Regions from separate parts of the Homo sapiens genome. Here region 2 is linked to region 1. Evidence: fine-mapped expression QTL. Tissue or cell type: putamen. Region 1 holds a variant in brackets; the other region holds the start of a gene. All regions are shown on one strand. Distances are between the middles of the regions.

Evidence for each region. PIP is the estimated chance that this variant, and not a neighbour inherited with it, causes the effect.
Region 2: PKDCC starts here. The variant in region 1 is fine-mapped to the expression of PKDCC in putamen (GTEx, PIP 0.95).

The regions. Positions count from the first base shown.
Region 1 is chr2:42,173,648-42,181,751 of GRCh38, reverse strand. All of the region lies in intron 1 of EML4 (EMAP like 4), which reads right to left. Among named protein-coding and RNA genes, the nearest start is that of EML4-AS1, 7.5 kb to the right of the region's middle. The variant A/G (reference allele first, on the strand shown) is at 4,192.
Region 2 is chr2:42,043,722-42,051,825 of GRCh38, reverse strand. It overlaps PKDCC (protein kinase domain containing, cytoplasmic), which reads right to left and starts at 3,805. Exons shown (of 7, transcript NM_138370.3): 1 at 2,988-3,805. The coding sequence starts at 3,626. RefSeq lists enhancers at 1,702-2,203, 2,917-3,176, 4,677-4,796, 4,420-4,924, 4,925-5,428 and silencers at 3,217-3,286, 3,417-3,516, 3,527-3,706, 3,857-4,106, 4,217-4,506.

The sequences.
Region 1 (8,104 bases):
GTGTCACAAAACAAGAAAGTCTTCAAAGAATGATGAGAACGTGGCAAAAGAACAAAGAAGACAGTTTAGAGGGGTATCTACTTGCCAAAACAGGGTCAATTTAAGCATCAAAATAAATAGTAATGGACTATAACCCATCAAAAAAATATGAAACCTGGCCAGGCGCGGTGGCTCACACCTGTAATCCCAGCACTTTGGGAGGCTGAGGTAGGTCATTTGAGGTCAGGAGTTTGAGACCAGCCAGGCCAACATGGTGAAACCCCATCCCTACGAAAAATACAAAAATTAGCCAAGTGTTAGTGGCGTGTGCCTGTAAACCCAGCTACTCAGGAGGCTGAGGCAGGAGAATCGCTTGAGTCCGGGAGGTGGAGGATGCGGTGAGCCGTGATCGCACCACTGCACTCCAGTCTGGGCAATAGAGTGAGACCCTGTCTCAAATACAAAATAAAATAAAAATAAAAAAATAAGAAACCTGAGTCCATACAGATATAAACCAATAAACTGAAGGTCTGATGAAGAACTGAATATTTACATAGTTTCAAAGCACATTTTACAAAATAGCTATCAACTACCAGCTAAAACAAGTAAAACAAGAAAAATAATTTTGCAATTACTAAAATTGTAAAATTGTGGGCAAGTCTAGCAGACACCAAGTGATCAGAATGGACATCATCAGTAATGGGATAAATAAAAATTGTGTGCCACCTAATAGGATGCAATGAGACAAACACAGCTTCACTTCTGTGGCATTTCTCCCAAAATTGCATAATTTGAATCTAATCAGGATGAAACATCAAATTTAGGGACAGTCTACAAAACAACTGGAGGGCAACTTTCCAAAGTGTCAAGGTGACAAAACCCAAGGAAGACTAAGGAACTGTTCCATATCAAAGAGACTAAAGAGACATGAAAACTAAATTCAACATGTAATTGTGAACTAGATCTTTTTGCTATAAAAGACATTATTGAGACAATTAGTGAAACTAGAATGGGTCTGAGAATTAGTAATGTATCAACATTTCCTGATTCTGTTGGTTGTAATATGGTTGTGTAGGAGAAAGCCTTACTTACAGGAAATAAACACTAAAATGTTAGAGGGTGATAGGGCATCCATTTAGCAATTTAATTCTCAAATTGTTATAGTGTAAAGAAGACAGGCACTTTCATCACCTCTTGGGCTAGGTAAAGGTTGCAAAGACAGGTCTATAGAGGCCAGGAAAGAAATGACTAAAACAAGCTGCATGTAAGGTAGGGACTGAGGGCACCTGGCACACCACTTAGCACATATACAGACCATCTGGAATGGAATGCAAGTCCAGAGTGGCAAGATCACCCTATTTTTCAATAGAAACCAAACATCCACATTGTTATGTGAAATCTCCCTATTTTTAAAACACTCAAAAGGGCCAAACAAAATATGTCTGTTGGCTAAATCTGAACCACAGCTACCTCTGGTCCAGAGACATGTTTCTCAAACTGAGGCTTAGGGATAAAAGGAAGCCACATGATACATACACGGAACATATTCTTGGAGCCGCAGTTTTATCTCAAGGGTTTGCCTGGAATTTTCTGGAAGACAGGATAGTTCCAATTTTTTTTAATGCCATACTATGAAGTATAATGCAAAGTTCATACAATTTTTTTAAACTTTTCATTTGAAAATGATTCCAAACTCACAGAAAAGCTGTAAGAACAAAAACAGTACCAAGAATATCCACATAGCTTTCACCAAATTAACCTATTATTAACATCTTACCCGTTGGCTTTATTTACACACATGCACATATGCATGCTCTGTCCCTCCCTCCCTCTATATGTACACGTATCTGTGTGTATATATAAAACACATATGGCCGGGTGTGGTGGCTCATGCCTGTAATCCCAGCACTTTGGGAGGCTAGGTGGGTGGATCACTTGGGGTCAAGAGTTCCAGATCAGCCTGACCAACATAGTGAAACTCCATCTCTACTAAAAATACAAAACTAGCCGGGCATGGTGGCATGTGCCTGTAATCCCAGTTACTCGGGAGGCTGAGGCAGGATAATCGCTTGAACCCGGGAGGCAGAGGGTGCAGTGAGCCAAGATCATGCCACCGCACCCCAGCCTGGGCGACAGAGCGAGACCCCATCTCAAAACAAAACAAAAAACCCCCATATATGTATTACCTTTGTTTCCTAAACCATAAGCTATAAACATCATGGACCATTCTCCATAAAAACTTGGGTATGTATTTCCTAAGAATAAAAATATTCTCTTACATAACCTGAAGACAGTTACCAAGTTCAATAAACATTAATGCAATACTTACCACCATCCACATGCCAATTTTGCCAAGTGATCCAATAATATCCTTTATTGTATTTTCCCCTCTATACAAGATCCAGTCTAAAATCAGGTAGTTCATTTAGTTACCACATCTCTTAAGTCTTCTTTAGTCTGGAATGTTTCCACAGACTTTGTCTTTATAATATTAAAAAAAAAAAAAAAACCCAGCTCCCCGACGTTTTAAAAAATAGGATGTTCCCCATCTGGAGTTTAAAATTTCCTCATGATTAGATTCAGGCTATGAATTCATGGCTGAAAAACACTGTAACTGATGTGCTCTTTTCTGGGTATCACATGCAGAGACACACAAATCCATTGGTGATATTTATTTTGATCATGCACACAAGGTGTTGTCTGATTTCACCACCATATTGAGTTACTGTTTCCCCCCCTTACAAGTAATAAGCATTATATGGGGGGAAATTTAAGACCATGCAGACAACCTGCTTCTCACCAAAATATCCCCCTAGATTTAGCACCTATTGATGATTCCTGTCTAAACAAATCTTTATTATAATGGATGCAAAACAATCATATAAATTTTAAAGTTAAATAGATTTCAACTTTTGCCTACACTCCCAGATCCCTTAGGTGTAAGTGCTCAGCCCCCTCCACTTTAGAAGCGCTATAGTGCAATGGTTTGAGTGTACCAATCAGGGACAGCTTCCTGGGGAAAAAATGTATTTCAGCAAATAAGTGGGGAACCAGTCAAGACACAGACAACTCCATCAGATCAGCTTAAAAATAAAATACAGCAATATGGTAAATCCTCTTTTTTGCAGTTGTTGTTTTTGGCTCCCAGGGATCTCTCACGTGACAGGCACCACACGGGGGATACTCACCACACTACAAACAAGGAAAATCCTCTTTCTTATTTGAGACAGGGTCTCGCTGCTCGCTCTGCTGCCCAGGCTGGAGTGCAGTGGCATATCATAGCTCACTGCAGCCTCCACCTCCTGGGCTCAAGCGATCCTCTCACCTCAGCCTCTCAAGGAGCTGGGCATGCACCACCACGTTCAGCTAATTTTTGTTTGTTTTTTTTTTTTGGTAGAGACAGGGTCTCACTATGTTGCCCAGACTGGTCTTGAACTCCAGGCCTCAAGTGATATTCCTACCCTGGCCTCCCAAAGTGCTAGGATTATAGGTGTGAGCTATACCACCTGGCCTGAAAATTCTCTTTCAAAGTAAAGAATTGATTTGCAAGGTAAACATACCCTAGCCCTACCAATTTTATAAAATCACTTCTTTACATACTGAGTTTGCCTGAATTACACTGATTCTACAACTAATAAATATCTTTCTGCTGCTGCTGCTGTTAAACATATTCTAATTATATTCAGATTCTAAAAACTTGTCAAAGACATAGCCCGCAATGATTACTTCTGATTGTTCATCCACCTTTTCATGTATGTCAACCTTTCCACCTATTCTCTCAAAGATAGGGATTAGCCACTAAAAATGTATCTTTCATCTGATTGTGACCAACAGAAATTTTACACTGAAATCTAAGACAAATATATGTAACTGAAATTAAATGTTCCATGAAGCAATATCACACGAAGTACTGATATTTTACATTATCTCTTCCTCTTCTCCTCATTTTTCTAATGTTGGTCCTGACCACGACTAAACTGATTTCAAAAACCATTAACAGGTCATGCACATGACTTGTACTTGAAAATACCCTAGAATCTGGCACAGAATTCTTTATCAGATTCCCAATAAAGTCTAGAACATTTCACTTATTTCAGGTGAAATGAGAAATAAGAACATAATGAGTTTTTGTTTGTCTGTTTGCTTGTTTGAGACGGGGTCTCGCTGTGTCACCCAGGTTGGAGCCCAGTAGTGTGATCTGCGCTCACTGCA[A/G]CCTCCACCTCCCAGGCTCCAGCAATCCTCCCACCTCAGCCTCTCGAGTATCTGGGACCACAGGCGTGCACCACCATGCCTGGCTAATTTTTTTGTACTTTTGGTAGAGACGGGTTCTCACCATGTTGCCCAGGCTGGTCTCAAACTCCTGAGCTCAAGTGAGCCGCCCGCCTCAGCCTCCCAAACTGTTGGGATTACAGGCGTGAGCCATATTTAATTTTCAAAGTAATTTTACAATTTTTTATTCTGAGATTGTGTATTACAATCTTTTGGTCTTCAAATGTCATTTCTTTAAAAAAAAAAAGAGGTATGAAAGTGAAGGTTGTTAAGTTGTCAACTATATACTAGTCCCTAATTTATTTCCTCCACATTTTACTGGATCATGAAATCTCCACTGCAAGACTTCAAAGACACATGAGAGTTTCAGCCTTCAATAAAACCTTCAATACAGCCTTCAAGAGGTTTATAATTTGGCTTAGGCATGGTACCTGCAATCCCCCAGCACTCTGGGAGGCCTCAGCGGGCAGATCACTTGAGGTCAGGAGTTTGAGACAGGCCTGGCCAACATGGTGAAACCCGTCTCTACTAAAAATACAAAAATTAGCTGGGTGTGGTGGCATACACCTGTAACACCACCTAGTCGGAAGGCTGAGGCAGGAGAATTCCTTGAACCCAGGAGGCAGAGGTTGCAGTGAGCTGAGATCATACCACTGCACTCCAGCCTGGGCGACAAAGCAAAACTCTGTCTCATAAAAAAATAAATAAATAAAAATAAAACCAATTTGGCTCAGGGAAATAAGACATAACAATTGTAAGATCTGTAATAATTACTTTCACCTTATAACTATTGGAATAAACATTCTGCAATAAGTACCCCAAGAGTGGTCCTATCAAGTGTTCACGGAAGAATACTTTGGGCTGGGAATGAAAAGAAGTAAACATTTTTAGAAAGGAAATAATATTTGAGTTGAGCCTTGAAGGGTACTGAGAATAGTCATCAGGATGAAAAGATGAAAATGTGAGGAATAAGAAATAGGTCATTTTGGTCAGAACATGGTAAGACAGTAGAAAGAGATGACAGAGGACTTGAGAAGATGTTAAGAGGCTAAGATGTTTGAATGTAGTCATTAAAGCAATGAAGCAATCTGAGAGGGTGAATAGCACAATCAAAGCATGGCTTTAGGAAGATAAATCTGAGGGCCCTGTACAAAATAAACTGGACAGGTGGAGATTCTCGACGCCATGCAATAATCCACGCATCGAATAATAAGTACCTGAACTATAGCGGTGGAAAAGAAAAGGGATGAGAAAAGGTGACAAGAATTGACAAGTCTTAGAAGAGATTCTAATGCCCTAGGCAAAAATGGCAAAGAATCAAAACATGATTCTGAAATTTCAAACTGGGTGATACAGTCAGTGGGAAATAAGGAAAAGAAGCTGATTCAGGAGAGAAGTTCAGATTCAGGTATGTACCTGAGGGTTATAAAGAGTCAGTATTGGAGTAGAGAAAAGACCACTGGACTCCATCAGAAAAATCTGAGTTCAAGTGGGAAAAAAAAAAAAAGGTTAGGATCCAACGAAAAAAACAGAATGCAAAATTATGTCTGCAGTATGATTTTAACTATTAAAAAACTAAGCATAGGAAAAGACTAAGAACAAGTACATTAACATGTTAACATCAGCTGCATACAAATGGGCTAAAGATAATTTATTTTTCTATTCTTCTTTCCTTTCTATGGTGTTTTATTTAAAAATAATATGATGCTGGGCATGGTGACTCACACCTCTAATCCCAGCACTTTGGGAGGCTGAGGTGGATGGATCACTTGAGGACAGCAGTTCAAGACCAGCTTGGCCAATATGGCAAAACCTCTTCTCTATTAAAAATACAAAAATTAGCTGGGTGCGGTGGTGCACACCTGTCATCTCAGCTACTCGGGAGGCTGAGGCACAAGAATCGCTTGAATCCAGGAGGCAGAAGTTGCAGTGAGCCAAGACTGTGCCACTGTACTCCAGCCTGGGCGACAGAAACTCTGTCTCAAAAAAACAAAATAAAATAAAATAAAAATAATATAGATACAAACACTCCCAACCATACAAAAAAAGAAAAAACCTGGACTTAACCTTTTAAAAAAATAACACACTCTTGGCCAGGTGCGGTGGCTCACGTCTGTAATGCCAGCACTTTGGAAGGCCGAGGCAGGCGAATAACAAGGTCAGGCGATCACAACCATCCTGGCTAACACAGTGAAACCCCATCTCTACTAAAAATACAAAAAATTAGCCAGGTGTGGTGGTGAGTGCCTGTAGTCCCAGCTACTCGGGAGGCTTGAGGCAGGAGAATAGCTTGAACACGGGAGGCAGAGGCTGCAGTGAGCCAACATGGTGCCACTGCACTCCAGCCTGGGCAATAGAGCAAGACTCCGTCTCAAAAACAAACAAACAAACAAAAACACGGCCAGGCACGGTGGCTCACACCTGTAAGGGAGGCCAAGGTGGGTGGATCACACAAGGTCAGGAGTTCAAGACCAGCCTGGCCAAGATGGTGAAACCCCGTCTCTACTAAAAATACAAAAATTAGCCAGACATGCTGGCGGGCACCTGTAATCCCAGCTACTAGGGAGGCTGAGGCAGATAACTGCCTAAACCCGGGAGGCGGAGGCTGCAGTGAGCCGAGATCGCGCCATTGCACTCCAGCCTGGGCAACAGAGCAAGACTCTGTCTCAAAAAACAAACAAACAAAAAAAAACCACTTTCTAGACCTTTTTCACCTATAAAAGTATAATAATTTATCTCCCAAGGTTAGTATGCAAATTAAATGAGATAAAAGCTCTTTGTAAACTGTAAATAAGGAATGCTTTAAAATAATATTTAAAAATCATATACAGCATGCAAAATTAAGGTATTATAAAAGCCTAAGACAGCTAAAGGACAAGAGATCATATACCGACATACAAATATACTACAGGGTCAGGCACAGTGGCTCACACCTGTAATCCCAGAACTTTGGGAGGCCAAGGTGCGTGGCCATCACCCGAGGTCAGGGGTTTGAGACCAGCCTGGCCAACATAGTGAAAACCTGTCTCTACTAAAAATACAAAAATTAGCCAGGTGTGGTGGTACACAACTGTAATCCCAGCTACTCAGGAGGCTGAGGCAGGAGAATCGCTTGAACCCAGGAGGCAGAGGTTGCAGTGAGCTGAGATCGTGCCATTGTACTCCAGCCTGGGAGACAGAGCAAGACTCCGTCAGACACACACACACAAAGAAATATACTATAGATTTGGGAATCTTCCACACTGAGGTAATACTAGATGAAGTAGATTCTTTCCCTAAACTTTTTACAAGTATTAGAATCTATTTTAAAAATCAAAATATTTTTCTAAAATTTCTTATGAATATTGAAGTTTTACATGTTACAGAAATGGACTCCCACATACAAAATACAGTATTTTGCTACATGTTATTCCAACTTACACATAAGACAGAAAAAGACTCCCTAGAATTTAAACTGCTAAATTATTTCATTGTTTTAAAAAGCCAAGCTCTGCAGAGATAAATCTAGCAATCAACAAATGTTCTCTCAGAAGTTACTTGCTTGAAACATAGCACAGCATTCTAAATGGTGCTTCCTCCCTTCATCCCCATTTCTGGTACTTAGGCTTAATAATAAACATCTCTACATACAGTACATACTTTATTTATTTATTTATTTTTTAGAGGCAGAGGTTTGCTCTGTGGCCCAGTGGAGTGCAGTGGTACAATCATAGCTCACTGCAACCTTCAACTCCTGTGCTCAAGTGATCCTCCTGCCTCAGCCTCCCAAGTAGCTGGGGTTACAGGCACATGCCACTATGCCTATTTTTGTTTTTTTTGCAGAGACAGGGTCTTGCTATGTTGCCCAGGCTGGTCT
Region 2 (8,104 bases), 130 kb after region 1:
TTCCCGCCCTAGGAGTGCCCCCTCAGCTCCCCGTCATCCTGCTGGCATGGGGGAAGGCCTCACTCTTGGGCTGTGACTTGGGGGGCCAGGGCAGCTCCAGGCACCCTCTTCTCTCTCCACCCCCTCCCCATCAGTCCAGGGAAGCCCCAGACCCTGGTGGGGTGGGGGGAAGGTAAGGGGAACAGCCCTGGGGCCTGGTTCTCATTTTCTTGCCCAGAGTCTGAGCCTTTGTGGGAAACTTCTGAAGGTTATTAAACACCCGGAGGTCGTTAAATGCGCTGTTAACGAGGTATTAATCAACACCCCTCAGGAAAAAATAAAAAGACACCATTAACCCCCCCCAGGAAGCGTGAGGCTGAGCATTTCAGTCACATCTTTTGTTTGGTTGGGAGAAGAAATATACTCTAGCAGGGCCAGAATCTGGGCCCAGGCAGGCCTGGGGGCCCATCCAAGGCCTGGGGGCCCCAGGATGACTGGGGGAGGGGGAGGTGGGGAGAGGTTGAGGGGAGGGGAGACCCTTGTGCCCTTTGGCCCTGGGCTATAGAGGAGTCAAGTCACGTGAGGGAGTGTGTATGCGTGTGTCAGGGGCGGGATGGGGAGGGGTCAAAGAAAATGGATAGAAAGATCTCGCCCAGGCAATCCCCATGACCAGAGAAAGCCCTGGGAGGTGCAGAATGGGGCCTGCTAGCCTGGGCATTTTCTATTAGAATCCACAGCACCAATTCTGGGCTGCTCAGAGAGGGAGGGTGGTGAGCCTGCACCACTAGGAACTCTAGAAATGTTCTCTAACTCCTCCCCAGTTCAGCAAACAGTCAAATGGTTTTGAAATTTTAAATAACTCAGAGGTATTAAAGCAGCATTATTTCTAGTTCCCTGTACACCTGCCCTGAAGCCTCCTGGGCAGGAAGACCCCACTGTAGGCTTCCCTGCCAGCAAAGATGGCCGTGTTTAGGAGGCCAGAGCGACACTGGCCTGATGGTCAGAAGATGAATGGGGGAGAGCCACCATCAAAGCAGTCCCTAAACTCACACTAAAGGGCCCCCCACTTTTCACTTTTCCTGGGTAGAAAGGACCTGTGACCCTCTCTCCCTTAGCAACCCTTGTGCCCTGGGGCCACTAACTCTCGTCTGGGACTCTACAATAAAGAGTCACACAGCTAACCCCAGACAACCCTGGTCTTGGTTTGGTGAGGGAAGGGTGAAAACTATTCTGTTGTAATTTTTTCTTTGGTGCCTTCAGAATTGGGCTGGGGGCCTGACATTTCAGAGGAGGACCGTCACGTGATATATATGTGGGGCGTTAGCTGAATGCTTGTCAGGAAGTTTGAGCTGGCGGGAAGAGTGAGGGACAAGTTTCTTAAAAGATAGGAAAGCACATCAAACATCAAACCCGTCTGAAGGGAGAGGGGTCTTGAGTCAAGTAACTAAGACTTTATGTCCTGCTAAGTCACTCAAGACCTCTCCACTCCCTCAGGATCTGGCTGACACCCTAGAGTTTCCAAAAAGTTCCCAAAAGTCCCTGGGAAGGAAAGAGTACAAGATCCTCCCAGTTAGAATGGCCACGTAACCAGGGGCTCACTCCCTGAAGCTGCAGACACGGTGTGAGCTGTGCAGCCAGGCTTCACTACACGCAAGTGTTGGTTCTGCCCGAGCTCCTGAGACCAGTTTGGGGCCCAGGGCCCGGTCACAAGTGTCTGACCAGGGTTGGGGAATACGATGGGGGAGGGGGAGACTGGGAGCCAACAGGAGTATAAACAACTTTTGGGCCAGTCTCTCCTGCTCTACGACGCCCACCCATCTCCCTCCAGGGCTGGGGTGCCATCTCACTCCTAAGGAAAGGAGAGAGGGACTCCTGGGTTTCCAGTCATTTCTGCTGGGTGCAGAAAGGTTAGTTTGAGTGGGCTGGTAGGTGGAAGGTGTGTGCAAGATTTCATCCGTTGGGGAGGCTGCACACACCCATGTTCACCGGGCCAACAGCGGTCAGGGATTCCCCTCTGTTTGCTCAGACATGTGCAAAGGGAATAGTCTGTCTAATCTTAGGATGGGGGGAGACCTGAGAGAGAGGACGTGGAGTGTTAGGGCGGTGCTGGGACTGTGAGAGGCCCACTCAAAGTCTAGCTTGGAGGGGACAAGGTGGGGGTTTCAGCTCTCGCCTGTGTCTCCAGTGAACAGGCGAGGCAGAGTCCCGTTGAGTAGGAACCTGAGCATTTGGCCTTCTCAACCTTCCAGCCTCTTGGCTATCTATATACACTCAGACAGTGTGACATTTAGATCCTCAGGCCGCCAGTCTGTCCACTGAGCTGAGACCTTCAGGCTTCTCCAGGGGCTCAAGGACCCACTTTAAGGCCTGGGGAACCCTTAGTTCACTTCTGGGAAGGACTGTGTTCCCTTTTTCTAGCCTGCTCCCCAGCCCCCTTCCAGTGTCTTCTGGGTGGCGCTGGAGGTGGGTGGGTGGGGAGACTCTATAGGAATCAAGCCTGACACATGGTCTCTTTCCAGCTCTTCCCAGCCCCACTGCTGTCCCGTCTCATTTTCAAAACCAGACAAATCACTGGAAGTTGGGAGAAGTTCCATCAAGAAGGGGGACTTTATCACACAGTTGGAATTCTGACTCAAGTGTCTTGGCTTAGGGTCATTTTGGCTTGGGGTAATATCCCTGGTGTTCAACCTCCTAACTCCAGCCCGGAGTAGAGTCCTAAATCCTAATGGACTGCCCCACCCCCTGAGTTTTGGGAGCCTCTGTCCTGGCCTGTCTTTAAGAGATGTGTGGAAGCCGAGAAACCCAGGAGTTCTCCGGTAAAGGGACGCCCACCCAGGAGTGAGAAGCAGGGTGGTGCAGTGGGAAGGGCCATGGTCCGGTTTCTGCGTCTAGCTTAGCCTGGGTGCAGTCACTGGCACTCCAGATCAAGGGGTTCTCTTCCAGCCAGGTTGACAAGGTCTTGGGCACTCCCAGCCAACACCGTTACCCCCGCGTCCCCACCCTCGTACCTGCAGCACGTTGGGGTGCCGCAGCCGCTCCAGCAGCACCATCTCCTTAAGCAGCTTGTGGGCCGCCAGCCGATAGCAGCCCCTCCGTACCCCGAACTCGCGCACGCAGCTGCCCAGATCGTGGCCGCTAAAGTCCACCGCCTTGAGCGCCACCGCGGCACCGCCGGGCAGGCGGACCCGGTACACGGCCTTGGTGTAGCCTGAGCCCATGTACTGCGCGCCGGACACGTTGCGAAGCGCGGCGCAGCCCAGGCGCGGGCCCGGGCCGGGGGAGCCTGGGCCGGGAGCCGGGGGCCAGCCTGGGGCGCCGTCGGACAGGGGCCGGGCCCAAGGGGGCCGGGGGCGCGGCAGGCCGGGCCCGCCCGGAGCCAGGTCCATCAGGCGCCGCCGCTCCGGCCGGCCCGCCCCGGGCCCGGGGCCCCCGCGGGAATAGCGCTGCACCTCCTCGTAGCGCGCCCGGATCTGCCGGGCCAGCTCCCCGCGGCCCCCGCGACGGCCCGGACCCGGGGCCGGCGAAGGCTCAGGGGACTGGCCTGGCCTCGGAGGCTCCGAGCCCGGAGCGAAGAGCACGTTGAGGACGGAGCCCAGCAGGAAGGAGGCGCAGAAACCCGCGGCCACTGCCGCCCGCCGGCGCCGCATCGCTCCCCTCCCCCCGGCCGGCCGGCCCCGCGCGGCTCCCCGGCCCCGGCCCCGGGCGGCTCAGGCTCCGAGGCGGCTCCGCTCTGCGCCCCGCCGGCCCCCTGCCCAGCCCGCGCGCATGGCCCCGGCGGCCCCGACCCCGGCCCCTCGCGGGCGACACATCGGCCTGACACTTGCCTCCCTGCCGCCCTGCCCCCGCCGCTTATAAGGCCCAGAGCCGCCCCCCGCCCCCGCCCCCGCCCCCTCCCCCGCCCCCTCCCCCGCCCCTCCGCCTCCACCTCCCAGCTCCCGGCCCGAGCCCGTCCTCGGCGCCGCCCCCTCCGGCCGCCCGGCCCGGCCTTCCCCGCTGACTGACAGCGGGACCTCCTCCCGCGGCCGTCCGGGCCTGGGAAGCGGCGCGGAGGCGGCTCCGGTCCTGCCCAGCCCGCGGTCCCGCCCAGCCCGCGGTCCCCCGAGCTCCGTCTGGGAGCGGGGGAGGGGGCGGCGGCGGCCAGGAGGCGCGCGGGGGCTCCGCGCCCAACGCGAGGGCGGATAACGGGGCCGGGGCGGCCGGATAACGGGATTGGGAGGTGGATAACGGAGCCGGCCGGGCGGAGTGGGGGAAAGATAAAGGGGCGAGGCCGGCGGGTAGCGGGCTCCGGAGGGGACGAGCAGCTAAGTCCGGGGTGCGGAGATCCGAGTGATCTCAGCGCTCCCTCCTGGGACTGGGGGCCTCGGGGCGGTTTGGGCGCAGGGAAGGCGCGTGGACCCCGTCTCTCGCGGGTGGGGCCGGGGGTGGCGGCTCCTCGCTCAGCCCCGGATTCCGGATTGGGGCGATGGTGAGGGGGAAGCGGGCACAGCCGGGCCAGCACCTGCGAGCGCGCGTGGGACAGGAGCTCTAGGCATAGAGGAATGCTCGTGAGCTCGCCGAGGATGCCCTGTTCAACTCCTTTTACCAAAGTGTTTCTGATTTTCCTTGCCTCTAAAGCCCCAAATGCAGCTGGGGGTCGCTCCCTACCCCTCAAGATGCCTGGGGTCTGACGGGGTCAGCCGCGTATAAGAAACCATGTGCATGCTAGTAGCTTGGGCAAAGAGTGCGTTTGTGCCCACGGACGGCTGTCTGTGGAGTGTGTGCCTCGGCGTGTCTGAAGGGGCCATTGTGTCCGATGAAGGGAATGTGTACCTTGTGTGTAAGTTGGTGCTGACGCCACCAGAACTTCGGTCCCTCCTCCTCCCTCCCTGATTGCATCATTAGTGCTAATTGAGGGGCTTTCACACGCCAGTGCACTAGCTGTTTGGAGTGAGCTCCCCCCTCCTGGGAGAGATAAGCCGCTGCCCCTCCCCCTCGCAGCTCTCCTCTTCCCCGCCACTCTGAAACTGCCCACCTAGATCCTCTCACCTTCCTGGGCAGCTTCCTGCCTCCCTCTGGGCCAGGTTAATCTCTGTCCTCCTCACAGTGTCAGGGATTGGCTGGGGAGGGGTCAGGGAGGAGAAGGGTCCACAGCCTTTTTTCTGGGGGTGGGGGTGGGTGGGGGGGTATCCAGGGAGGGGAGATTTTCCCTGAAGAGGTCTGGCGTTCCTACAGAATGCAGTGTCTGTGATGAGAAAGGGACAGGAATTTCTGCCCTGTTCCTTTGGACATGGAAGGACCGAGGAGAGAGCTGAGTCCCTGATCTCCAGCCTATGATCCCACTGAGGTGGGCCTTCCAGCCCGGACTCCTTGTTCTCTATGGCTTGGGGAGTTGGGGCCCAGTCCGACTTGGCAAGCATGGAAAGGCAGGGTGAAGGAAGCCATGATTCCTCCGAGAACACTGGGTCTGGTGGAGTCAGGTCTGTACCGATAGAGCTGTTCTGCCCCACTCTGGGCCGTGGCTGCAGTCTGCAGGGTGTAGGGGGAAGGCTCTGAGCAGATGCCCTCTCCGCAGCCTTGCACCAGATGTCTTTGGTCTAATTAACTGTGCTGGGAAAACCAACCTGGGTTTGTAAACAGAGCTACTGGCTAAAGTCAACAGGGAACAGCAGCAAACAGCAAACCATTCCCCTCACACTCAGCCTTGGTCCAATTCAGACCCCTGGGGAAAACGGGGAGCTGGGTGGATTAGGAGGCCCCCCCCGGCCCACAGCTGAATCAGGAAAAGCCTGTCTGCCTGTGTCACCCCAATATGGCTGCTAGTTCCTTATCAGTTCCATGTCTTCTTTTCTGGGGAGGAATGAGGATTTTGGGAGGAACAGTTGCCATCCCAAGATAGGCTCTGTCCTCCTTCCAGCAATTTCCCCATAGACATCTACCCAGCCAAACGTCTCAATCCGTGAGGGAGCTGTTGTGGGGGAATATTCCCTGAAGAACTTTCTTTGGGGCTTGCTCTGCCCTTGTGTTTTGGAGAAACTTCTGAGGGTAAAACTTGGCGTTGTGAGTCTACAGCTCAGAGTAGGTGAATATAACATGAACATTGTTAAGTTTGTTACACATCATGTAGGTATTATAATAACATGTTCTGAAATTAGATAATTATTCCTGTGATATCTTTGCCAAGCTTCAGTGTTTCTGTTATGGTTTGAAAGTTCAAGGCACACAGGGGCCTGAGAAACAGGCACAAATGTGCGTGCAACACACACAGGTCCACGGAGCAGTTCAGAGCAGTAGCTCACACACAGGAACAAAGGCATCTCAGTGGCCTCCCTCGCATACTCACTGTCTCCCTCACCAGCTCTCAGACACAGACATATACAATCTGAGATGGAAATGGGTTTTTGGCTTCTGAAAGAAAGGGATTGAACTTTTTGAGCAGATTAGAGTTTCTGAATTGGCAGTTCTTGAGTTCTTAACTATATTTTGCTTGTTTGCTTTTTTTTTTTTTTTTCCTTTCTGCCACCCAGGGAGAGGAATCATTTCAAAGAATTGAAATACATGAAATGCTGCTGCAGGCCCCTGATCTGCAGTCTGCCCACCCACTCAAAGACCAGGTGGAGCCCATAGCCTGGGCCTCACAGGCCAGAGTCTGCAGGCCAGTGTCCAGCTCAGAGCCCTCAGTGCCATCTTCATACAGGAGCCATCAGCTGGCAGTCCTCCCTGTCTCCCCCAGGGCTTCTGGCAGCCCTCAGACCACAGTGTCTGTGCAAGGTCTGGAAGGCTCAGTACGTCCAATGCTCTATGCTTTCTTGCTCCCTCTATCTTTCTGCCATGCTCCTACCCCACTCAAAACACTTACTTGGATATTAATCCTTGGGAAGAGGGCAGATGGCCCAGACTCCAAAATGCTAAATTTTCTTTAAGGTGTCTTTTAAATACCTTCTTTCTGCATGTTTCTGTCACATCATCCTAGACTGTCTGAAGGGTTATTCTAGCCTCCCATCTGCCTTCTTTATTGTCCATCTTTTTCTCTGCAGGCCAAGGCTCAGACACCTCTTTTGGAGTATTACTGTCCTACTCAAAAACCTGGAGGATAAGCTGAACTGGCCTTCAGGCCTCCATGAGCTGGCCCCAGCCCCCCACCTAAGCCTGTGTTCCCCTTTCCATTCCTCCACACAAAGTCAGACTCCTCCTGCACCAGCTCCTGCCCCAGCCATCATCTGCGTTTTCCCATCAGTGCCCTCTCTCCCAGTTCCTCTTCCTGAAATACCATCTTCTAGCCTTTCCGCTTAATCTTTGCCAAGTGGTCCTTCAAGGCCTCCCAGAAAGTGTTGAGGTAGAGATAATGCTTCTGCAACTGGGGTCGTGTTGCAGAAGGTCCTTGGGATATTGAGTGTCTATTCTTAGAGTTTTGTGGAGAAAGGAAATGTACATAATACATTTCTCAGGTCTTGGAAAACTTGATGTAAAGAGCTTGGGATTTGGAATCAGGGATTCAATCTCATTAACTGAGTGACCTAGTATTTACACAAATTTCAAACAAACAAACATCTGTGACAACATCTTATACAACTTGGTTGGGTATAACTCTGCCAGGGGGCAGAAATAACTTGAACCTCTCTTTTCTTCTTTCTTTCTTCCCCTTCCTTCCTTCCTTCCTCTCTCTCTGTCTCTTTCTTTCTTTCTTTCTTTCTTCCTTCCTTCCTTCCCTCACTCCCTCCTTCCCTCCCTCCCTCCCTCCTTCCTTCCCTCCTCTCTCTCCTTCCTTCTTTTCTTTTCTTTTCGTTTCTTTTCTTTTTTCTTTTCTTTTCTGATAGGGTCTTGGGTCTTGCTCTGTTGCCCAGTCTGGAATGCAGTGGCCCGATCTCGGCTCACTACAACCTCCACCTCCCAGGCTCAAGTGATTCTCCCACCTCAGCCTCCCAAGTAGCTAGGACTATAGGTGTGAGCCACTATGCCCAGCTAATTTTTGTATTTTTTTGTAGAGACAGGATCTCACTATGTTGTGGAGGCTGTTCTTGAACTCCTGGGCTCAAGCAATCCTACCTCATCCTCCCAAAGTGTTGGAATTACAGGGTTGAACTACTTTCTTTTGTTTTTCTTTTCTTTTTTTCTTTTTCTTTTTTTTTGAGATGGAGTCTCACTCTGT